Regions from separate parts of the Homo sapiens genome. Here all the other regions are linked to region 1. Evidence: fine-mapped expression QTL. A gene starts in region 1. Each other region holds a variant in brackets. All regions are shown on one strand. Distances are between the middles of the regions. Region 1 holds the start of PODN (podocan). Region 2 overlaps SLC1A7 (solute carrier family 1 member 7). Region 3 overlaps SLC1A7 (solute carrier family 1 member 7). Region 4 overlaps SLC1A7 (solute carrier family 1 member 7). Region 5 overlaps SLC1A7 (solute carrier family 1 member 7).

What was found. PIP is the estimated chance that this variant, and not a neighbour inherited with it, causes the effect.
Region 2: its variant is fine-mapped to the expression of PODN in whole blood (TOPMed, PIP above 0.99). The same link has a PIP of 0.9 or more in blood mononuclear cells.
Region 3: its variant is fine-mapped to the expression of PODN in whole blood (TOPMed, PIP above 0.99).
Region 4: its variant is fine-mapped to the expression of PODN in whole blood (TOPMed, PIP above 0.99). The same link has a PIP of 0.9 or more in blood mononuclear cells.
Region 5: its variant is fine-mapped to the expression of PODN in whole blood (INTERVAL, PIP above 0.99).

The regions. Positions count from the first base shown.
Region 1 is chr1:53,058,822-53,065,075 of GRCh38, reverse strand. PODN (podocan) reads right to left here and starts at 2,863. Exons shown (of 11, transcript NM_153703.5): 1 at 2,768-2,863. RefSeq lists a silencer at 2,698-2,885.
Region 2 is chr1:53,130,736-53,134,735 of GRCh38, reverse strand. It overlaps SLC1A7 (solute carrier family 1 member 7), which reads left to right. Exons shown (of 11, transcript NM_006671.6): 2 at 307-386. Among named protein-coding and RNA genes, the nearest start is that of SLC1A7, 9.9 kb to the left of the region's middle. The variant G/A (reference allele first, on the strand shown) is at 2,248.
Region 3 is chr1:53,084,952-53,090,764 of GRCh38, reverse strand. SLC1A7 (solute carrier family 1 member 7) reads left to right here. Exons shown (of 11, transcript NM_006671.6): 8 at 1-153; 9 at 831-965; 10 at 1,786-1,888; 11 at 2,538-3,582. The coding sequence ends at 2,756. It overlaps PODN (podocan), which reads right to left. Exons shown (of 11, transcript NM_153703.5): 11 at 5,271-5,813. Among named protein-coding and RNA genes, the nearest start is that of PODN, 26 kb to the right of the region's middle. The variant C/T (reference allele first, on the strand shown) is at 2,132.
Region 4 is chr1:53,124,673-53,128,672 of GRCh38, reverse strand. The region is part of intron 2 of SLC1A7 (solute carrier family 1 member 7); the gene reads left to right. Among named protein-coding and RNA genes, the nearest start is that of SLC1A7, 16 kb to the left of the region's middle. RefSeq lists an enhancer at 3,290-4,000. The variant T/C (reference allele first, on the strand shown) is at 2,499.
Region 5 is chr1:53,105,838-53,109,837 of GRCh38, reverse strand. All of the region lies in intron 3 of SLC1A7 (solute carrier family 1 member 7), which reads left to right. Among named protein-coding and RNA genes, the nearest start is that of SLC1A7, 35 kb to the left of the region's middle. RefSeq lists enhancers at 3,390-3,889, 3,890-4,000 and a silencer at 3,787-3,994. The variant C/T (reference allele first, on the strand shown) is at 1,669.

The DNA of each region.
Region 1 (6,254 bases):
TTCTAAGAATGGAGCAAGATAAGCCCCCCAAGGCCCCTTCTGTGTACCCAGCCATGTGGGAGGTGTGTGGGGAAGAACAGGGGAGCTCCCTGGTCTCCAGGAGTTTCAAGTCCACCTGGTGAGGAACATCTCAAACCCCTGGACAGCGGGGAAGCTCAGCCAGCAGTGAGTGTTTCTCATATGGAGAGCTTTAGAGACAGAAGGGCATGGGTTCCAATTCTGACTGCTGTGTAAGCCTGGATGAGCCACTTTACTGCTCCGAGCCTCTGTTAACTAGTCTAAGAAATGGAGTTGGGAGCTACTTGTGAGAATTAAATGAAATAGCAGTCTCAGCCTGTCACCGCTGGCATCAAATAGGTGTGACATACCAGGGGTTACTGTTACTGAGAAAGTAAGTGGGACCCACTGTCTCCCCTGACCACTACCAGGGAACCAAACCTCAAGGCCCAAAGTGTGAGGTTAAGGTAGGACTAGAAGAAGGAAGGGAAAGGGAGCCCCAAATCAAGAGGCGGATCCTCAGCCCTCAGCACTACCTTCCTTCTCCACTCAAAGTCAGTACAAATCAACTGACCACCTGCTCTGTGCTGGGCCCCAAACAGCTGCATCTTATTGACTCTAATAGAAATCCTGGGACTACATGTTCGTCTTTCTATTCTGCAGATTTGGAGCTCAAGCACAAAGGGCTGGCATTGCTGCCCATCCCTAGAAAGCTCCTGCTGAAATGCCCCTGCTCAGGGAAGCCTCTCCTGCCCCCTTGGCTGGGTTAGGGTGTTTCTGGGTGCTTCCACAGCAACCTTGGCTGGCTTTATCCTTCAAGTCTCAGCTGGGCCTCCCCTGTCTCCCCAAGCATGGAGTGGGGGTGCTGGGGAAATGTTTGCTGAATGAACGACTTTGTGAAAGGCAGAGTTGGAAAAGATCTAAAGATCTGCAGTATGATCTGCTCTGACTCCCCCAGTTTGCAAATTAGTGTGTTAAAGCCAAGGCCAAGAGTAAAATGTGGGTCTTCTGACTCCTGCCCAGAGCCTTGAGTTGGCCTTGAAGACTGAGCGGGAGTTCTCCAAGTGGACGGAGTGGGAGAAACAGCCCTCCAGGCAGAGGTAGAGTGTGATCAAAAGGTAGGGGTGGGGCTAGAGGAGAGGGACGTGTGTTTAAGGAAGGGTCAACAGGGCGGGAGGCCTGGGTGGCCAAGGGCCTCCACCGCCATGCTAGTGTTGGTGATAGGGACTCATTAAGGGTTCCAAGCAGGACACGGCCAGCACTCGCATGTATGACTACACCAAGCCTAAAAGTGCCACCATTAGTAATCCCCTATCCTAGACTCAGACAGAAGGGATAAAGTGTGCTCCCACAGATGACATGAAAACAGTCGTGTGACTCTGACATTTCTTAACTTGCACTCTAGGCTAGAGTAGACTGGGTCTTGGGCCCTAAGAGTGGACATGAGGGAGCAGAACCCCCAGAGCAGTCCCCCCTGGTCTTTCCCAGGGCAGTCCACGGGCTCTTCTGAGTGACCTACCTCGGAATGCTGTGCGCCTGCAGATCAGCCGGCCTCCTTGCTCACCATGAGCCCTCCTGCCTCGCCGCTGCCTTCCCAGTGTGGAAGGTTTCTATATAAAGGAGGGATAGGGGACGGGACCACCCAGGGGCTCTCCCGGTTCACACCAGTGGCGCCTCGTGGAGCAGGGCAGACCACAGCTTCCCCTTCCCTGGCCAGCCGGTAATCGAAGGGCAGACAGGTCAGTAATTCACTCCAAGCGCTGGGTGAGCATCCTCCGCGCCTCCCGGACCAGCTCAGTCAGTGCCGCGCGCACCGGGGCCGGGGTGCTCGCCCCTTGCTGCCGCGCCTGCTCCTCTCCAAAAGGCTGCGGCTGCCTCTCCTAGCCCCAGCCCCCGAGGCTGCCAGGAGCCTCGCAGCCCCGCCACCACCTCCTCTTCCACCTGACGGAGCGTCAGGTATTCCAACGCCAAGATCTCGTCCCCCGCCCCAGGCCGGGCTGTGGCTCGGGGACCTGGAACCTGGGGCTTCTGCCTCATTCGCAGGAAGGCGCGGATCTCGCTCCTCGCGCTTCGCGGACCCCCACCCCTTCCTCCCTCCAGCTGTCCCGGCTGGGAAGCAGCCGCGTAGACAGATAGACGGACTCCAGACCGCCAGCTGAGACCTTTAGCTCAACTAGTGGTTGGCACTAAGCTGGGGCGGCACAGTGGCCGGGGAAGCCGAGCCCCGGAGGGGACCCACCCGGCGTCCGACGCGCCCTGGGGCCAGACCTCTGCCCCTCTCTGGGCCTCAGTTTCTCTATCTATAAAGAGGTGGAGGTTGGAGTCGCTAGGGGGCCTGATGAGTTGACGTGGAAAGACGCGGGGATACTTCGGGCCCAGGCTCTCATGACAGGGGTCCCCGCCCCTACGCAGTTCCACCTGCCCCCCACATTCCCTGTCGCCCGCCGGCGTCCTCCCACTCCAGCCCCCGCCCCCAACCGCCCTCAGATTCTTTCCAGATGTGCGCAGCGGGAGGGGCCTGGGGACGGGGACCAGCCTCTGCTCAGAGAGGAGAAGGCCCCTGCCTGGGTCCTGACTGCGCAGGGGTCGCACTCCAGAGGAGGAGATCTCCGGCCGTGCCCTGGGTGCAGGGTCCTACAGAGGGGGTGAGATGCGGCGGGCCCGCCCCAGGCAGCTGCTGGAGCCATCCGGAGAGGCGGGGACGTCTGAGTGCGCTGCCCGGGCTCAGCCCCCGGCCCCTCGGCCCACCCCGGCTGCCAGCGCCCTGTACCTGCTGCGCCCCGGCGCCGAGCGGCGCCCCACAGGCCGAACGCGCTCCCCCAGTCTCAGCTGCGCTCCGCGGGCTCGGGCTCCTTCCATTCAAGTCAAGCTGGGCGCTCTCCGCGACGCAAGTTTTGTTGTGGGTTTTCTCCTCCCCGCCTCTCTCCCGCCCCCTTCCCCCACTCCCCACCCGCCCCGGGAGCATCTGCTGGACGCCGGCCTCCTTCGGACACAGGCGTAGGGTCCCCCCAGGCGCGGGCAGGAGAAAGCCTGCCCCTCCCCGCTCGGGACTTGGCCGGTTCCCACTTCCCGGGGAGGCAGAGCCGCCGCACCGACCCCTCTCAGCCCCGGCCGCCGCACCACGCCCCCCGAACCCCCACCCGGGAGACCGGGAAGGCGGGCTGTCTGGTCCGCGACGCTTCCTAGTTCCCAGCCTTCCGCACTGGAACTGGACCCCCTTTAGGCCCCGACACCTGAAAGGAGGGCTGGGGAGAGGGGTCCTTCGACCCAGTGCCTCTGAGCTGTATCTTCCTCATTACAGAGGATGTTGCAACCGCTCCAGGCACGAGTACCTTTCCGTTCACTCTCCCACCCTGGGGTCCTGGGCCGTGGCTAATGGGGCCGCCAGCCAAGACCCTGCTGGGCCTCTTCCCGGAAAAGTTCCCCACGCTCCACCCCACCCTCCACTCCCATCCCTGTTGGCCCTGGGCCCACAGCCTGGTGAGCCTTGAAGAATGGTAAATTGGGCCGGAGTCGGGGACATGCAGATCCCAGTCACAGAGAAACAGGGCGGGTGAACAGTGAGACCTCACACCACCATATTGCTCCCAGGAACTGAAAATGTTTCCAAGTAAAGGAGTATTAACTACTACCAGCTGAAGCAACACTGTTTGGCGCCAGGGGCTTCGGCGGTGGAACAGGCAATGCGGCTGGGCTTAGGTGGTACTTGGCACCTCCACTGTGTAGCAAGCCTCCTCCCCTTACCTGCTCTGGCCTGTGGGCAGGGCATCCACAGCTGCCTCACCTGGCTGTCCTCCCACTGAAGAGGGAGAAGGATGCATAAGTCACACGTGGGACCCCTTGCTCAACCTTAACCTGAATGAATGAATGAATGAATGGCCCCTGTAAAGCAGCTCCAGACTTTTCACTGGCTGCCGCCCCCGTGAGGTTATACCATATGCATTATGCTCTGCTTCACAACTCCGCAAAGGAAGAACTGCTGCTGCCCCACTTTATAGAAAAGAGATGGCCTCAGAAAGGATACTTGACTGAGTAAAATGCCCATTCACTGGCAGAGCTGGGGTTTTGACCCCAGGTTTACCCTTCTCCACAGCCCAAGTTCTTCCCATGATGGAAACAGGCAGGTAACTTGAGCAGGCAAATGTAGAGTCTAGATTTGAACCCAGGACTGTCTGTTTCCATTACACCAACAACCCAAGAACTTAGCAAGAATGGGGAGGGAAAATATTTTGCCTTCTTTGGCCTCAAATTCCAGTCCTTTTGGAGCTCAAACTCACAAGAGTTGGTGTGATTCACAGCATTGGACCTGGACCAACAGAGATGCATCTCGTGTCTTCTCCTGAACATTGAGCCTAGATTCAAGTAGAGCTAAAAGGACAGGATTCTACTAGCTTGAATACTCATGGACTAAAAATCTTTTAGGACAATGAGAGCCAGCACATATTGAGTGCCTAATAAATGACAGGCACCATCCTAAATCCTTAAAATATCTTAATCATCCTAGCCCTGTGGGGAAGATATTCTCTATACTTATAACTGCTAAGGCCAAGGTGTTTCAGGGGCCCGCTACACGGCACACCACACACCCAGTACCCACCACCTCCCAGAGAAATAGGCTTTTCTATGGAATGCTGAGCAAATGCCCATGTGTGCTTTGTGGTTGGCTGCTACTATAGATACAAGCTGCAGGAGGAATCACTTTGAGTGTCTCTGGTGGAAAAATGGAGGCAACCTTGGTGCTCTAGAAGCAAATCCTCTTTCAGAAGGATTGTAAAGGCAGAGTTTGAAATTGAGGTTTCCTGAATCTACTTGTGCTGCTTCAATTCCTTCATGCTGCCCCTCAATTTCAGCTCCTGTTTGATATTACTGAAGTACATAGTGTCAAGTACAAGCTTTAAGCTTGGAGCTGGGTTCAAATCCTAGCTAGGTTCAAATGAATATAAAAATAGTACCTACACTTCACAGTATGTCTAAATTGGAGAATGCAAGTACAGAACTTTACATAGTACCTGTCACATGGTAAGTGCTCAGTAAATGGTAGCTATTACTGCAAAACTATCACCCAGACCTGACCAAATAGCCAGGAAACATTATTAAAATAGAAATGACAAGTGGCAAGAATTAAACAGTAACCTCTGTACTGCCCAGGGAAAGTGCCTTCTAATTCAAAACAATAAGAAACAAGAACACTCCAAAGAGGAGGGAGGAAAGACATACATTGATACGGTAGAGAGAGCTAGGAGTAAAGAACAAGAAGGCTCTCAGTGGGGTTTGATGATGAGAAACAGGAGATGAGGAACAATGAGCTCTTGTTATGCCTCATCATCAAAGAAGAAAATAATTCCTCCTACTTTGAGCTGAGGGCTGAGATCTTATTAAGCAGTAGAGTCCCAAATAGCTATGGCAGCAGCTTGATTTTCTGGACATTTAAGGAATCAAATCACATGGTGGTGTTTGGGGTATATGAATTCCATCTGAAGGACCTTGATGAAGGCAAGACTCTCCAGGGAACAAGAAGAGAATAATGAAAAATCTTCAGTCCAAGTCAAGTACACAAGGAGTCTCCTGGGCTGCTATAACATCTCATACAGACTCTTTATTATTGGAACTTTCTTGCTGTTTTTCCTCTTTCTCCCACTGGATTGTGAGTCCTCCAGGGCAAGAATCTCATGTTCTGCAAGCTCTCCTCTCTCACCCTAAAATACCACTGTGATAGGCAGAATACCCCCCAACCCCGCCCCAAAGATATCCACACCTTAATCCCTAAAACCTTTGGATATGTTACATGATGAAAGTGACTTTGCAGATGTAACTAAGGTTACGGACTTCAAAATAGGGAGCATATTCTGGATTACCCTGGTGGGCCTAATCACATGAGCCCTAAAAAACAGAGAACTTTCTCTAGCTGGAGAGAGAGAAGATGAAGCAGAAGAGGAGGTCAGAGAGATTTGAAACATCAGAAGGACTTGACTAGCTTTAAAGATGAAGAGGGTCATAAGCTAGGGAATAAGGCAGCCTCTAGAAAGTGAAACACCCGTAGGCTGCCAGGAATGGTACAGGGACTTCAGTCCTACAGCGGCATGAAACAGAATTCTGCCAGCATCTGAATGAATGTGGGAGCAGAGCCACCTTCTCCCCTGGAGCCTCTAGATAGGAGCCCAGGGCAGCAATACTTTGACTTCAGCCTTGTGAGACCCAGAGCAAAGAAACCAGTCAAACTCAACCAGACTTCTAGGCTACAGAACCGTTAGATAATA
Region 2 (4,000 bases), 71 kb before region 1:
GCTGAGAATAAGTAGGGACTACTGTAGTTATTACCCTCATGTTACAGATGAGAAAAATACAAAACTCAGAGTGGTCACAGAAGATGCTTAAGGCCACACAGCTTGTGGGGGATTGGTGGAGGCGGGGTGTTTACCAGGATTGGAACCCAGTTCTGTGGCTCCAAAGCCAGTTCTTTCTCCATGGTCTCTGCTGCCATGTGCTAGACAGGGGAGTCAGATGGGATAGTGCTTCAAAGACTGTGAAGAACGGAACCACTGTGCAGTCTGCATCTCTTGCTATAACCCCAGTTCTTACTGTGTTTTCAGGAAATTAGTTACTTCCAGTTCCCTGGAGAGCTCCTGATGAGGATGCTGAAGATGATGATCCTGCCACTGGTGGTCTCCAGGTGAGAGCGGGGGTTTGACCAGGTGGTCCGGAACCAGGAGGGTAGAGGATGGCTTCTGTTGCTGCCCTGCTCCTGCTGTGGGTGGCTGGAGAGCAACCACAGGCCCTGGGATGAGTGTGACCGTGGGGCCTTTATGGGCAGTGCCGTGGGCTGCCGGCTTCTGAGTCATTCAGTGGCCCCAGTTGTTGGTTCCATCCAGTAGAATTTTTAGTGGATAGAACAGGTGATTTGGAATCAACGGATATGACCCGACTCCAAGATAGCTCAAGGCCAGGGAGTTGAGGGTTGGCTTCCCAGAGGAGGGGCTGTTCATGGTAATGCAGCAAGGCCTGGGGAAAAGAGAACTAACTCTGAGGATACTCCAGTGATCACAGCCTGGCTTGGCTGTGTAACCTTGGACATATTACCTCACCTCTCTACGCCTCAGTTTCCTCATCTGTAAAATGGGAATAACAACACCTACTTCGAAGGGTTGTCATGAAGACTATATGTTGTGTATGCTGAGCACTCAGGAGGTTGGGACTTGGGGACAAGGGCGGGATGGTGCGAGATGAATTTGGACGGTGAGCTCTTGCCCAATCATGAACGACCTTGAACACCAGGCTGAAGAATTCAGACCTTACCCAGTAGGGTGCGGGCCATGGAAATCATGGGAGATCACTTGGTCCCTTTCACTGATGTGCTAGGTGAACTTGAGCAACCCTATCCCTGTCCAGGTCTTGAGTATTCCAGATGTATAATGAGTGGCTGCTCCAGGTGGTGTCTAAGAGCCTTTTGCTCTGAGGCCATGAGAAATCTTCATCTTCCAGGACTCCTCTGCAGAGAGGAAAGAGGATGAGCCTCTGCATGCGTTCTGCCTCCCAGCCTCCCTGCTGCTGAGCAGTGAGCCAGCTCCTTGGACCTCCCCCCTTTGTGAAGTGGAGATAATCCCCAGGCCAAGGGCGCTTTGTATTTTCTGCACAGAGGCCTTTGCAAGCAGCATTTAAATTTCTCAGGACTCAGCCTTCAAGGCTCTGCTGAAATGCTACCTCCCTCAGGAAGCCTTCCCTGACTCCTCAACTCACTCTAGTGACTGTCTCCTCTTTCTGCATCTTTGGAGTCATTCACTGAGCCTGTGAATCTGTCAGGGTCAGCAGTCCTCTGTGTTGCTGAATCTGTACGACACGTCCAGTTCTTCCACACGGCCTCTCCACAGCCATGGGTGCAGCTGATTACTCTTGCCCTCATGAAATGCCCTTCCCTATGGACTCACACTCTTCTAACTTTTTGCCTGCTTTCTGCCCCTCCATCTTGGTCTCTCTCCTTCTACTCAACCTCCAAATGTTCAGCTTCTCCAGCCTTTTCTCATCTAATTTCATAGCTTTAACATACCACCTACAAGCCCAATGCCCCCAGATGGAGATCTCCCCAGACCTCTCCTGTGAGCTCCATACTTCATTAACCAACTGCCTATTTGACATCTCCACTTGGATGTTTCACAAACGTTTCAAGTTTTGTTTTGTTTGAGATAGGATCTTGCCCTGTCGCCCAGGCTAGAGTGCAGTGGCACAATCTCAGCTCACTGCAGCCTCGGCTTCCTGGGTTCAAGTGATCCTCCTACCTCAGCCCCCCAAGTAGCTGGGACCACAGGCACACACCACCACACCTAATTATTTTTTGTATTTTTTGTAGAGGCGGGGTCTCACCATGTTGCCCAGGCTGGTCTCAAACTCCTGAGCTCCAGCAATCCACCTGCCTCAGCCTCCCAAAGTGCGGGAATTATAGGCATGAGCCACCGTGCCCAGCCACACTTCAAGTTTAATGTCACCAACTTGAAGTTCCACCCAGAAAACTGCCTCCTTTTCCTGTTTTCTTCTTGTCT[G/A]CAAATGGCAGCTCCATCACCCAGGTCTTCCATCGGGCCTGTCATTGGCTATCCTCTTTCTCTCAACCCCACAGCCCCATCCACAGTTCCAGTGGATTCTGCCTACTCAGTCGAAGAATGGAGCTTCCTCCCAACCCTACAGGCCCGGGCACTCTCTTCTCACGTCCAGACTCCACCGCCACCTCACTGGTCTCCTCGCCTCACTTCTTGTCCCCGTCCCATCTATTCCACCCAGTGGCCAGAAGGATCTTGAGAAAAGCAGATTGGGCCCTGCCCCTCATTTACCTTCAACAGCTTCCATGACATGTAGAATCAACCTGCAGACCATTAACCTGGTCTAGGAGGCCCTGCATGATCTGCCTCGCCCACCCCACCTCATCCCATGTCACATACTCCAGTCCCACCAGCCTCAAGTTCCCTAAGCAGACCAAGCCCTTACCATCTCAGGGCCTCCACACGTGCTGTTCCTTCCTCTGGAACATGCTTCCCCAACATCTTACATCTCTTCTTCTTCCTCTTTTTTTCCATCTCAACTTGCACATCATCTTCTTAGGAAGGCCCTCCCCACCAACCCCTTCATGCCACCCTGGCTCTCCCTTACTGTACCCTGTTCCCTCCCGGCCACAGCACATATCATATGTTGTCATTCTATATGCATTCACTTGTTAACTGGTTTCTTTATCCACTGGGCTGTAAGCTTTGCAAAGTTAACGAGGCTACTCTGCCTAGATTCAACTCTGTGTTGTCAGCACCTAGCCAAGTGCCAGGCACATAGTAGGTGCTCATTAATACTGGTCAAGTGAATTAATTAATGGATCCTGCAATCATGCATTGTGCTTTCTGGACACTTGGCCCTGTGCTGGGTGCTGCAGACACAGAGATGATGGAGAGACTGTCCTGTGGTGTTCACAGACTGCTGGGGAGACTGACAGGAAAATAGACAATCACAGAACAGCTAAATAAGTGCACTGGTGGAGGAAGCCAGGACCCTTGGCAGGCAGTTCTGTCTGCCCTTTCCTGCTGACTGTCCTAACTGCCTGGGCATTGCCCCTCTCTCAGAACAGAGGCACCTTAGAGGCCATTGTATGGACCCTGGTGTCACACAGCCTGGCCTTGCTATGTATTAGCTGTGTGGCCTTGGACAAGTCACTCAAAACAAAAAAATCCTGTTCAGAAGTCAGAGGCCAGGGTCCTCGACCTGCCTCCACCACAAGCGATCATGTGATCTGAGGTGAGGCCCCCAACCCTGGGCTTCTTTACCCAGCAACGAAGGCCCGTCCAGCTCTCCACCTTCTGGCTCTCAAATGCCTGGTCTCCCTCCACCAGACTCAGTGTTCTCTTGGCTGGAAATGCATGTGATATTAAGTTGAGAAAAGCCAGGACGTGTTCATACATTTCATTTGTTTATTATAGAGTTTGGACTGGTGCAGAGCAACCGTGTCACTAAGAAATGGAACCGCTTTAACATTTTCCTATGAAGGGAAAATTAAACCTTCAGGGGGGAGATATGACGCATTTCTGAGTCCTAAAACCCCTCGTTCCTGAACTCTCCCTCCTTTGGCCTCAAACTGGCCTATTATCCATCCTGGCCAGGAGTCCATCCACACTGTCCCCTGAGCTCTTGCTCCTGGCCAGCCCAGGGCTGGGTGTCCCTGCCTTTGAGGAACAGCCACTCTGGTGTGAGGTTGTTACTCAGGGCAGAGCAAAATCACCAGAGCTGCTTTGAAAAATTCAGATGTCAGGCCTGACCCTG
Region 3 (5,813 bases), 26 kb before region 1:
CAACCACATCGACCGGCGCATCGCTCGCTTCGTGCTGCCCGTGGGTGCCACCATCAACATGGACGGCACTGCGCTCTACGAGGCTGTGGCCGCCATCTTCATCGCCCAGGTCAACAACTACGAGCTGGACTTTGGCCAGATCATCACCATCAGGTGCACCCTGACACTGCACCTGGGTGGATGGGGCGGGGGCTGGGGGCCTTGGGGATTCCCAGGCTCCCAGACTTGAGGGGTATCTGAAGCGAGCGAGCCTGGGCTCGGAGCACAGCAGGCAGAGGGCCAGGGCTGGGAGCTCCGAGCCTGGAGGACAGCCCGGGAGGGAGGGCATTGCTGGTGGCCACAGGGCGAGCGGAGGCCAGGGACAGGACTCAGGACCTTGGAGAGGCCGCCCGTGTGGCAGGAGCCAACGAAGGGGTGCTGGGATGCGGCTGAGGCTGACGGAGGCCTCACAGCCCAGCCAAGCACACAGGTCTGACCCTGGAGGCCAGGCCCCAGAGGCAGGCAGGCAGAGCCATGTGGTGGTCAGTCAGAGTCCCTGGGCAGCCCCATAGCAATATAGCTTCCTGGAACCCACAGAGGCACAGCTCCAGACACAGGTGTTTGCACAGTTCCCAGGGATTCTCCTGAGGCCAGGAATGGGGGTCCATGGGGCTTCAGGACTGTGAGGAGGGACTTGACCCCGAGAGCTCCCTGGTGTGGCATTCCTACCCACCCCCCGCACCAAATGGCTGTCCCAGAGGCCCTGACACTCAACCTCTTCCTTGGAGCCAGACCCTGACAATGCACCCTGCCCCTCCTGCTGCTCCTCTTCCCCTTCCCACCCCCTGCAGTATCACAGCCACTGCAGCCAGCATTGGGGCAGCTGGCATCCCCCAGGCCGGCCTCGTCACCATGGTCATCGTGCTCACCTCCGTGGGACTGCCCACCGATGACATCACCCTCATCATTGCCGTTGACTGGGCTCTGTGAGTGGACTTTGCCTCTAGCTCTAGCCCTCTGGGAGGGGCTGACTTCAGGGTCAGCAGGGATCAGGGTGAGCGGCTGAGTCCCTTCCCCAGGGTAGAAGGCTGGGGACTGCCCCGCTTGGCACTGTGGGAGTGCCCTACTCATTAGCACAGGCCTGGCTGCATAATTTGTGGGGTCCAGTGTTCAAAAATGAAAATGTGGAACCCAGTCCAAAAACTGTAAAGGCCAGGCATGATGACTCACGCCTATATGTCCCAGAACTTTGAGAGGCCATGGCAGGAGCATTCCTTGAGCCCAGGAATTCCAGAGCCCAGCCTGGGCAACACAGTAAAATCCCCATCTCTACTAAAAATTAGAAAAGAAAAAATTAGCTGGGACTGGTGACATGTGCCTGTAATCCCAGCTATTCAGGTGGCTGAGGCACGAGAATTACCTGAACCTGGGAGATGGAGGTTTCAGTAAGCCGAGATGGCGCCACTGCACTCCAGCCTGAGTGACAGAGCAAGACTCTGTCTCAAAAAACAAACAAACAAACAAACAAAAAACAAACCTATAAAGAATTTCAAGACAGAAACAGCAGAGGATTAAACCAAACCTAACCCTTCTAAGCATGGGGACCTGTGGAACCCACAGCTGCATGCCAAGAAGCTGCTTCAATGATGCCAAAGGGTGGGCTTGGGAGGAGCCAGGAAGCCATCTGGCTGCAGGCTTTGCATGACAGCTGGTCACCGGCCGTGCTGTACTGTGCTGGGTTGAGCACTGCCCTCTTCCAGCTCCCCTTCAAGTGCCCACCACTCACCCCCAACCTTGGCTCACCAGGGACCGTTTCCGCACCATGATTAACGTGCTGGGTGATGCGCTGGCAGCGGGGATCATGGCCCATATATGTCGGAAGGATTTTGCCCGGGACACAGGCACCGAGGTGAGAGCAGTGAGATCCAGAGGCTGCCAGGAGGGTGGAGCCACGCAGGGTGGGCAGGGCACCAGATCTTCCACCAACCAGCTCGGCAGCCTCCAGCCAATCCCTCCCTCCATGCCTCTGGGCCTCGGTCTCCTCATCCGTTACAGAATGACTGATTCCTCTAACATCTATTTATTGAGCACCCGCTGTGGCTGGCGCTGATATAGACACAGGAGGAACAGTAGAACAAGATATGATAAAATT[C/T]CCCGCCCTCGTGTCGGGATGGTCTGTCCAGTTTAGCCAACATGTGAGCATTTGTAGGTCTGTGCAGGCTGTGTGGGCTTCAGGCTCCTTCTACAGGCAAATGGAGAAGGCTGTCCCCACATCATGGGGAAGAAGCTGAGGTCAGGCAGGGGATCCACCAATTCCCCAGATGGACCCTGTGGATTAAGTCCCCTCCTCTACTAAGCCAGCTCCAGTGGGAGGCAGGACGCTTGGGAACAGGAGCCCAGGGAGGCCGTGACCTGCCGAGGTCACACAGCGTGTCTGCAGGAAAATCCATCTTGTGGTTCCTAGCCCTGAGCTCATTCTGCCCCACTGGCCCTCAGTCCTCCCTCGTATCTAACCTTGGTCCCTCCTGCTGCTACAAAGACCTGTTTCCCTTCACCAGAAACTGCTGCCCTGCGAGACCAAGCCAGTGAGCCTCCAGGAGATCGTGGCAGCCCAGCAGAATGGCTGTGTGAAGAGTGTAGCCGAGGCCTCCGAGCTCACCCTGGGCCCCACCTGCCCCCACCACGTCCCCGTTCAAGTGGAGCAGGATGAGGAGCTGCCCGCTGCGAGTCTGAACCACTGCACCATCCAGATCAGTGAGCTGGAGACCAATGTCTGAGCCTGCGGAGCTGCAGGGGCAGGCGAGGCCTCCAGGGGCAGGGTCCTGAGGCAGGAACTCGACTCTCCAACCCTCCTGAGCAGCCGGCAGGGGCCAGGATCACACATTCTTCTCACCCTTGAGAGGCTGGAATTAACCCCGCTTGACGGAAAATGTATCTCAGAGAAGGGAAAGGCTGCATGGGGGAGCCCCATCTAGGGAGTGATGGGCCCGGCATTGCCTGAGGCCCCGCTGTGACAGTTTCCCCGGTGTGAGCCCGGTGAGGGCGGCAGGCAGGGGTTATCCGGCCCCACTTTCTGGATGACAGACTTGAGGCTCTGAGAGCTGAAAACACTTGTCCAAGGTCTCACGTTAAGGTCAAGACACTAACTCAAATCTTTCAAGCCCCGCCTCTCCTCTTGGAGGACAGGGCAGCCTGCAGCTGTGTCCAGGCCCAGGCCCCACCCCATAACAGGTGGCCTCAGCCACACAGTTCTCCCCAAGGGGAGCAGCCCAGGGCCAAGCCCCGCTGCCTTCCCCAGGCCACAGTGCGTCCAGTCTCCTGTCCTGCCACGTGTCTTTTGCAAAGCTCCTTGGATGTGGAGACAGATGTCTTTACTAGAGCTGAAAGGCCCCCTTGACACATCCAGGCCAACCTCCCATGGAATAGGTAGGCAAGCCAGGACTCCGGGAAGGAGGTGCAGCCAGGATGCTCTGGTGGAGCTGCCGATGGGGCCCTGGTGTCAGAACTCCCCAAAGGCCTGTGCGTCCAAGTGGAGTCAGGTTTTCTATTCCTTTCTGTGTTTGCAAATTCAGTGTTAACTAAATAAAGGTATTTTGTTTTTCACTTCTTGTGGGCTTCAACACCTTATGCTAGCCAGCAAATATGATATTAGCTACTGGGCTAATTAATACAGGCGGCCAGAGTGCAGACGGGCCTGTCTGGGCAGCCAGGATATGGGCGGGCCTATGCAGGTGGCCAGAATCTAACAGGCTTGTCCATTTGGCTGGAGTGTAGACAGGTCTGTCTAGGCTGCCAGTGTGTGGACAGGCCTGTATGGGCAGCCAGAGTGCAGAGAAGCCTGTCCTGGTGGCTGCAGTAAGGACAGTCCTATCTGAGCTGTCACATGCAGAAGACAGAGTATAAGCTAGCCTACCCAGGAGCCTGTCTCAATAACCACAGGGCAGCTGGGCATCGTCCAGTGTGGACAGACCTCTCTGCCATGGTCTAGGCTCTGCTCTGCAGGCAGGGCCTTGAGATCAGTCCCCAAAGAAGAAACAGATTTCCTTCCCAGTCTGGCTCCCCGTGGTGAATGCTTTGCTTTAGACAGGGGCGTGCCCAGGGACATTTCCAGATGGTCTCCCTCATTCTCACACCCCAGGCTGCCTCCAGGAGGCCTGCAGGGCACACAGAAGGGCCCTGGCAACACAGCCTGTTCCAGATATGCCTTGGGGAGAAGATACAGCTCTGGGGTCTGGAGGGGCTTGCACCATGATGCCCTTGAAGACACTAAGGCCCAGGGAGGGGACAGGCCTCCCCCAGGTCACTCAGCGTCAAGAGGGCACCTGCTCCCACTGCCCCATTCCTGAACTCCTTCCACCCTCCTCCCAGGGGTGGAGTGTGAGGAGTCTGGGAAGAGCACGACCCCAGGACACCTCCTCCCACTGCAGGGCTGGGGGCTGCAGGCCTCCACGAGAGCATCCTTCCTTCCCTGAGGCCTCCTCACCTGGGAGAGGTCAGATGTCATGCAATCGGTCATCCCACCTTCATGCAGACAAGCTTAGCAGCCCCTTCTAGGTGTCACATCTCTAAGACCCCTTGAGCAATCGAGTCTGTCCCAGCACAAGGCAGGAGTCTGCTCTTTAGTGGACTTGGCAGGAGCATCCTTACACACCTCCAGCAGCAGGGAGGTCACCACTTCCCGAGCATCTCAACCCACAGTGGGGCAGCTCTGCCCATCAGAGGCTCTTCTTAGCTCAGAGCTGGGTACCACCTCCCGGTGGCAGCTCTCCCACTGGGGTGGGAAGCACACTGGGTGCATCTGTTAGCTCTTTCCTGGAAAGGTCTGCGGAGACCTGGGCCCCCAAGTCGGCTCTGCTCCAGCTCCCAGGCCTGCCTCCAGTCCCCTGCTCTCCTCTAGAACCCACTAGTAACACCCTGTCAGTGCAAAGGTGACCCATGACCCTCCAGGTGAGCCCTTAACAGGCCCAAAGCCCATGAGGTCCTTTGCTTGGATGCTCCACCTCTGGGAATGCACAGCAAGCTCACAGGCCGCGTGTGCTGGTTCAGGCCTCACCTACTATTCCCGAGTGGGCCATCTGCACACACCTCAGGCCCCCTCGCCTGAGGCTATGCCCTGTTCTCCCAGGATGCCTGCCTGTGCAGCTACTCTGCGGGCCCCGAGAACTGGACTTTCCACTGATGTCTGCTGTTCTGGCCAGGGCGCTGAGGGGCTTGTATCCTGCCCCCTCCACCCGGCACCAGGCCAGCACCTGGCAGGAAGCAAGCACAGACATAGCCACAGGCTGCAGGGATAGGGATAATGCTTTTATATTAGTTTTTCTATAACAAGAAAAATCAGCTTTGAGATTTTTATCATTTTTTTCCTTAGAAAAGAATAAAAAATAAAGGCACCCGGAACTTCCCCCACAGGCCTGAAGAACAAAGGTGTCTCCTAGGTGCAGCTGGGTCCTTCCTCCCTGGCTCAGCCCAGCCCCATCACCTCTGCTTCACTCCTGCCCCAAGGCCCCAGCAGCACCCAGGGGGCTCTCCCATCCTGCCTCCACTGGGCTTGCCCATTGGAAAAGTGCCTGTGTCCTGCCAGGGCGTGGCAGGGAGGGACTCTTAGCAGAGTGACTGCCCAGCACCTGGAGGAGCAGGGTGGGCCAGGCCAGGCCAGCAGTCCTGAAGGCTCCTGTCCCCATAGGATGGGAAAGGAATAAAAGCCAGCTTTTGTGAGTTCCAGAGGGTGGCAGGCACCTGGCCACAGAGCATGGATACCCTTGTGTCTTCTCCAGGGAACGGACGGACAGATGGACAGGGCAGACGGCGAGCTGCTATGGCTGATTCTGGCTGGG
Region 4 (4,000 bases), 65 kb before region 1:
TACAGACCATGCAGCATGCCCTGCTTCACCTGAGTCGTGCACACCTGCACATCCACAGGGCCTCCGCAGGGGCCCTGGCCAGGTCCTGCCCACTTCTCCATGATGCACTCACCTGGCACCCAGAGCCATTCCTTGCGCCATGACAGTCAGAGCCTCCTTATCTGTCATGAATTCCTATTCTTTTTTGTTTTTAATTGAGACAGGGTCTTACTCTGTCCCTCAGGCTGGAGTGCAGTGGCATGACCACAGCTCACTGTAACTTTCAACTCCAGGGCTCAATCGATCCTCCCGACTTAGCCTCCCAATTAGCTGGGACTACAGGCACACGCCACCATGCCCAGCTAATTTTTTAAATTTTGGGTAGACATGGGGCTCTCACTATGTTGCCAAGGCTGGCCTTGAATTCCTGGGCTCGAGGCATCCTCCTGCCTTGGCCTCTCAAAGTGCTGGGATTACAGGTGTGAGTCACCGCACCCTGCCCAATTCCTATTCTTACTGCCTCTTGCTTTTCTATGCCCTTCACTCCTACAACCAAGCAGCCTTCATCAGCTTCCCATTCACACCAGCATTCCTTGCTTCAAGTAGTGCCTTCAGTTATCTCCTGGTTCTCTGTGTGTGTGTCTGTGTGTATTCGTTATCATTGCCGTGTAACAAATTATCACAAACTTAGTGACATAAACACACTTCATGGTTGCCTCAGTCCCTGGGCCAGCAGTCTGGGCGGGCTTGGCTGAGTCCTCTGCTCAGAGTCTTAGGCTGCAATCCAGGTGTCCGCTGGGCTCTGTTCTCATCCGGAGGCCCAACCAGGGAGAATCCGCCTCCATGCTCCCTCAGGCATGGACAGAAGTGATTCCCCATGGCTGCTGCCTGAGGGCCCAGCATTGACAGCTGTGCAGTGGAGCCACTCAGGTTCTAGAGGCTGCCTGCAGCTCCCCACCCAGCTGTCTCCACAGGCAGCTCACAGCATAGCACTGTAGGTCATCAAGGCCAGCAGGAAGCCCGGTCCTCACCAGTCTTCTGAGTCAAAGTCTTCTACCACATAACCACAGGGAGACATCCCACCACCTTGTTGTGTTCTCATAGAAGTCACAGGCACTGCCACACTGCGGGAGGAGGATATACCAGGGCTTGGGTCATCGGGGTGGCCTGAGGGCCTGTCCACCTCCTTCTCTCTCCTGGAACCTTCCTTCTCTCTTCCTCTGTCCCCAGAGCAGCTGGATGTCTTTCAGAAGTCACTTCTGCTCACCTCTCTCCCTGGAGCCGGCTTGGGTTGAGTGGAGCCACTGCTCAGCTTCTGTCCAAGTAGTTCATCAAGAACTTTCTTCTGAATAAGGACTGCTCCCTTACTGTAAAAATAATTCTGAAGAATATAACTCTCCCCCTTTCATCTGATTTCTCACTGCCCCATACAGGGCCTGCTACTGCCTGTGCCTGATCAATACATTTTCAATGAATAAGAAGCAGCAGAGGGCAGCGGCAGCAGAGTTCAGGGAAAGTCTCACCATCAGCATTTGTATGGGCCCTGGAGGACAGTTAGGAGCTGAACTTTAAAGATGTTTTCATATTTTAAAAAATTAGATAAAGCCCTGGCAACATAGTGAGACCCCATCTCTACAAAAAAAAAAAAAAAAAAACTTTTAAAATTAGCCAGGCATGATGGTGGGCACCTGTAGTCCTGGCTACTTGGGAGGCTGAGGTGGGAGGATCGCTTGAGCCCAGAAGGTTGAGCCTGCAGTGAGCCATGTTCATGCCATTGCACTCCAGCCTGGGCAACAAAGCAAGACCTTATCTCATAAAAAAAAAAAATTAGATAAGCAAATTACAAACATTTTGGATAACAGAGAAGAAACCATCCTCTCACTCCACATTGCTAATTCTGCCACTGTGATTTCTTCTCTACAAGGTTTGTTCTTATTCTTACTGGTGAATTCACCAGATGTGAGGTGAGGTCCTTGGCTGATGGGATCAGAAGCCCAACTGTCTGGGCCCCAGAGCTGGTTGGGCCTGTCCCCCGATGCTAGCAAGGGGCAATCAAATATGCCACATACTGATTTATTCATTCCCAGAGATCAAGACACTTGCCAGCAAGGACAGTCATATGCAGGCTCTGGCCAGAGCCTCTCTGTGGGCTTACCATGCAGGGAACCCACTGGTGAAATCTGCTTGCTGGTGGGTACATTTAGTTATTTAACTGTATAACCCGGCGTAACTCCAGGTTTGCGGTTTTCAGTTTATTTCAGCCCTCCCACCACCCCCGCCTTATAGTGGAGTCCCATCATATGTGCATTTAACTTAAGTGAATTCAATTACATGTGCTCTGAAAAAGGGAGAAAATCATTTAAATGAGACAGGAGACTCCTCCTTCCAAGGGCTCTTCCCCAGGTGAGGGCCACGAGAGAGGAGGGCCTGAATTGCCTCCACCAGCCGCTGTGCCCAGGCACCTCCTGAACAGTGAGCACCTCCCTGAAGCCAGAGAGTTTCTAGGGCCTGCAGAGGGG[T/C]GGGTGTTTTAGATCACGGCCTCTGAGTGTATGCTGATGCTCTCATCTGGTGTTTGCTTAAAGAAACAGCAACCCACTCCAAGGCTGGAAGGGAAACTGTCTTGAATGAACTTACACAAAACTATACCTCCTGGACTCTATGGGCAACTTAAGAGATTTTCAAAGGCAAAATTAATTACACTTTGTTTTTGCTTTACTGACTTGAAACTGAATACACTGAATATGGTCCTACTCCCCTGTACTAGCAGGAAGCCCAGTGTGTCCCTCTGGAGGCCTCCACCCCGTGGCCACAGTCAGCTTATTTCATTCAGTGGAAGCTTCTGGTGTAAACAGAGCTGGAACATGGGGTCCTGCCACCAGCCCTGCTGCTCTGGTTCCCTCCACGGGGTGGCCCTGTGGAACGCAGGTCCCGCACGCTCTGGTGGAAGTCTGCACACTGCCCCTTGCAGGTGCACAACGCTGCTCAGGCCACAGGGATGCCTCCAGACCCCTAGGTCCCCCCGAAGTGCTCAATAATTGTTCCTAAAGCAGCCTCAGTCATGTCCTGAGATCAGCTCCCCGGGAGTTGAGCCCCAATTCCCTTTTCCCTCCTACTGGGTTCATTTTGGAGGCCTTGAATGCCAGGCCATCTCGGCTGGGGGACTCTAGCGTACCCTGGTGCTAACTTCAAATCACAGGGAACTGGGGCTCAGGTCTTAGTCTTTTTCCTCTCAGAAGGCCCTGATCCTCTGGTGCAAATGGGCACAGTTTTCCATAACTCTGCAGATCTCAAGTTCTCAAGGAGGAGGCATTCATCAAGCCACAACAGCTCCTCCCTTCCCCTGACAGTGCTGCCTTCTCATCCGACATTTGCTGCTCAAAAGATTCTTTGCAAAATAAAATTGCCTGCAGGGGAACTTGCTCTGTCCACCCAGGAACAGAGACGCCTTGGACAAAAATTAGAAAATTCTGCCTCACATTACATTAGTATAGGAACGAATCATCTGGACGGGACCTGCATTGGGGCCCCCCTCCCATGGTTTTGCCCTCCTCAGCCGTCTTCCGTGTGCTGCCACAGTTCACTAACGCCATGCCAATTATATCTTTATTTAGAAAAGTCAAGCCTTCAGGGCCTGGGAGCCTTACTTTCCCATTCTTCCCCGAGCAGGCCACTTGTCACTACCCCAATCCTTTTTGCTTTCAACTTACAGTATAACCCAAAAAGTATCTTCCACAAAAATAAATCTGTAGCCTGCTTGCTTTGGTTTTCCCCCAATGTGATGTCATAAGAATTTCCACGCTGCACCTTCACCTTGGTGATCCTGTTTTACTCACCCACTCGGGAGGCACAGAGTTTGCAAAGTCTTTTGCCTGTCACAAGGCACTTGGGAGGCTGCTAGACTCTTGAGGGAGCTGCCCTGCCTCGGGACTGTGGTCTCACCTCGAGTTCACCCTCTTAGCCTCAGCCATAAAATAGGCACAATGCTGTCTGCTAATTTACAAAGCAGGTCCCGGCAGGTGCT
Region 5 (4,000 bases), 46 kb before region 1:
CCTCACGCCCCCACCCCAGGGCTGCCCACCATCTTAGGACAGACGGACAAGTGGGTGCACTGACAGCCACTCCTGATGCTCTGAGAGGCTGTGAAGGAGATGGGGACACTGGCAGTGAGGGACCAGGGGCCTCCTGACCCTTGCCCTGGCCCAGAACAGGTGCCTACCAGGTGCTGAAGACTGAACAAAAACACTGATGACCAGGAAGAGAACTGAGAACCAGGGCAAGTGGGACAAATGGAAAGTGGGAGCCCACTGCGTGGGGACATAAGGCACACCACAGGGGCAAAGATCTGCATCCTTGTCTCAAAGATGACTCCAGAGGAACACAACAGGCCATGTCCCTGGATGACCCTCCAAGACAGGAATTCATTTTCCAGGGCTCCGGGGGGCCGCTCCAGAAGGCTGGCGCCTGCTCACAGTGCAGCACGCAAAACAGAAACCCAAGCAGAGCACTAATCAGGTCTGGCCCCTTCTCTTTTTTTTCGAATCTTATTAAAACACCACAGAGATTAAGTAATGACTGGGCTCTATTTATAGCTCCCAACTACCCTCTCAGGGATTGGAGGAAGCTTCCAGGAGCTGTGCTTGGGAAGGAACAATTCCCACCTTTAGGGCTTGGTTTGGGGACATGTTATTAGGGGTGGGTTTGGAAGCATCTCGGTGAGAATTTGCAAGTAGCAGGTGAAGAGGGGAGCTGAGAGGTGGACTCTGGCTCTGCCTAGAAAACGTGCAGGGAGGCACAGGGCAGAGTGTGTGGGTATTTGATAGGCATGGCTATTAACGTCCCCAGGCACGTTCTGTGTTTTATGTAGCTGCCACCAGGAGCACGGACCTCATGGGACAAGCAGAAAAGTCTTCCCGTGAAGGCTCAAAGCCAAAAGAAAATGTACATTTCCCCATTTAATAATCAAAGGTATAATTCTTGATTAAAATCTGCAGGATAAATTCATTGGTTATTAGTATGAGCACACACGAGTCAGGACTTGCTTTTGGCTGCCAGATCAGCAGAGGCTTAAGTAAGGTAAGGTTTGCATTTGTTCCTGAAGAACAGTCCAGAAGTGGGAGGTGGGCAGCTGGCAGTCACCAGGGTCCCAGGCCCTGCCCTCCTGTGTGCCGTGCCATGCTTAGCACCTGGCTTTCATCTGAGTCTCATGGTCCATGAAGGTTGCTCAAGCTCTAGCTATTATCCCCATGTTCCAGGCAGAAAGAAGAAAGTTGGAGGAACGGACCAAAGGGTCCTGGCTGAATGGGCACCTCCTTAAGAGTTTTCCAGGAATCACCACCCAACGACTTCCACTCACCTCTCGATGGCCACCCCATTAGCAAGAGAATCAGAGCTTGATGGCAGGTCCCATTTGGTCCCCACAACATAATAGGACTTCTGTTAAGGAAGGACGGGAGAATGGAGACTGCATAGGCAACTAGCTGTCCCTGCCAAGGCCCACATTTAAAATGATTGTAATTGTAAAGGAAGTTGTAAAGAAATGTCTATATAGGTATAAGTTCCATTTGGCTTCTTACGAGCTTCCAAATGTTCTCCGTGTGTGTAAACTGAGTCTTGAAAGAGGGGAAGAGGGTTACCGAGGACAAGAGTGAGTGGGAGGCGACCCAGGTGGAGGCAGTGTGAGTGTGGGGCGGCAGGTTGGAGGAAGAGCAGGCATGCAA[C/T]GGAAGCCTCTTACCAGATGCTCACCTCAGAGTTGGCATTTCTCACAAGACACACTCCTAGAAGGGGACTGTGAAGACAAAGATACAAATGCTTTTAGAGAAAGGTTGCTGCCAGGACCATGTGAGGGTGCCCATCTCACCAAACCTCCCACATTGTGCACTGTCATTTGAAAAATACTTTGTCAGTTTGACAGGTGGAAATATCTTGAATTTGTTGATGAAACTAAACATTTTAAAAAGCATTTTTGGCCACTGACTTTTCTTCTTTTGTAACACGAATTGCCTGGTAGTATCTTTCCATCGTTTTCCTGTCGGGTTTTTGTGGTCTATTGGTTTACGCAGCAAATATTTACTGAGTGCTTGGTATGTGCCGGGAACTCTTCCCGGGGCTGGAGACACAACAGTGAACAAACACAGAGCTTCCGCCCTCCAGGGAGCTGATATTCTGATGAGAGGAGATAGTGAAGGTAGAAACCAGGCCAAGATTTGTAAAAGCTCTTAGTAGATTTAGGATGGTAGTGCTTGGTCACGCAGTCTCTCCAGCTCGTCACTTGCTTTGTGGTTTTATTTGTATTGCAATCTGTCTTAGCTTCTCAAGCATTCAGCTTTCCATTTTAGCATAGTTTTAGGTTTACGGAAAAGTTGTAGACAGTACAGAGAGATCCCACACACCCTTCACCTGGCCTCCCCTGATGTTAGCGGTTTACATAACTAGGGTACGTTAGTCAAAACTGAGAAATTAAATTGGTACAACACTATTAACTAAGTTACGGATCTCGTTTGGATTCCATCAGTTTTTCCACGAATGTCCTTTTTCTCTGTTGCAGGATCCAATCCAGGATGCTATGTTGCGCTTAGGGATTTCTTTATTTTCATGTAGTAAAATCTATTGATTTATTGCTCATTTTGTTCTTAGAGAGTCATTTCCTATACTGAGACATGATAAGATCTCAACCTATATTTCTTCTAGCTTTTTATGGTTTCTTTGCCTTTTTTTTTTTTTTTTTTTTTTTTTTAGTCAGAGTCTCACTCTGTCCCCAGGCTGGAGTGCAGTGGTGCGATCTCAGCTCCCTGCAACCTCCGCCTCCCGGGTTCAAGCAATTCTGCAGCCTCAGCCTCCTGAGTAGCTGGGACTACAGGCGAGCACCACCACACTCAGCTAATTTTTGTATTTTTTAGTAGAGACGGGGTTTCGCCATGTTGGCCAGGCTGGTCTCAAACTCCTGACCTCAGGTGATGTGCCCACCTTGGCCTCCCAAAGTGCTGGGATTACAGGCATGAACTACTGTGCCCAGCTGGTTTCATTTTTCAAAGACTTATTTATTTCTTTAAACCTTTTGGAATTTATTTTGGTGTAAGCATCTAACATCTATTTTTTCCAAACCGTTGGTCAGCTGCACAGCATTCTATAATGAATCCTTCGTTTCCTCACTGATTTGTGAAACAACTTTTATCAAGTACGAAACACTTAGAGGTGCTAGTTTCTGTTTCTAGGCTACAGCTTACATGGACTTTTCCATCGACTGCTGTGTCAGTATCACAGTTTGACAGTTACTTTTTTTTTTTTTTTGAGACGGTGTCTTGCTCTGCCGCCCAGGCTGGGGTGCAGTGGCGCGATCTCGGCTCACTGCAAGCTCCGCCGGGTTCACGCCATTCTCCTGCCTCAGCCTCCTGAGTAGCTGGGACTACAGGCACCCGCCACCGTGCCCAGCTAATTTTTTGTATTTTTAGTAGAGACGGGGTTTCACCGTGGACTCGATCTCCGACCTCGTGATCCGCCCGCCTTGGCCTCCCAAAGTGCTGGGATTACAGGCGTGAGCCACCGTTTTTTATCTAGTAGGAAAGACTCCTCCACCTTTAGCTTTATAATAAAATATGTTACTAAGAATAATGAGCCCACCTATGTGCGAGGTCCCGTGTTAGGCCCCACAGATAGGACATGAACAACCAAGTCCCACCTGCAAGGCGGCCACTATATGGGGGAGGCAGACAGGTGAGCCAGTGACCGCACGGTGGTGTGGCGGAGCAGCAGCGACCTACACACAGAAGGGCCGCAGGGTCTCGTGGGGCAGTCAGGGAGGGCTGGACAGAGGAAGAGGTGCTTGATCTGTGGTAGATTTGAGTAGTTCACCAGACCAAGAGGCAGGCAGGGCATTCCGGGCAGAGGGAACAGTGTAGACAAATGCCTGGCTCTGGAAAGTATGTGGCACAGTCTGGGGGCGGCAGGTGCTGGCGCTGTGGAGTGTCCATGATGTAGTGGGTGAGACTGCAGAGGAGGCTGGCCTGAGGAAGGCCCGACCACCAAAGGAGATGTCCAGATGACCCCAAGGCC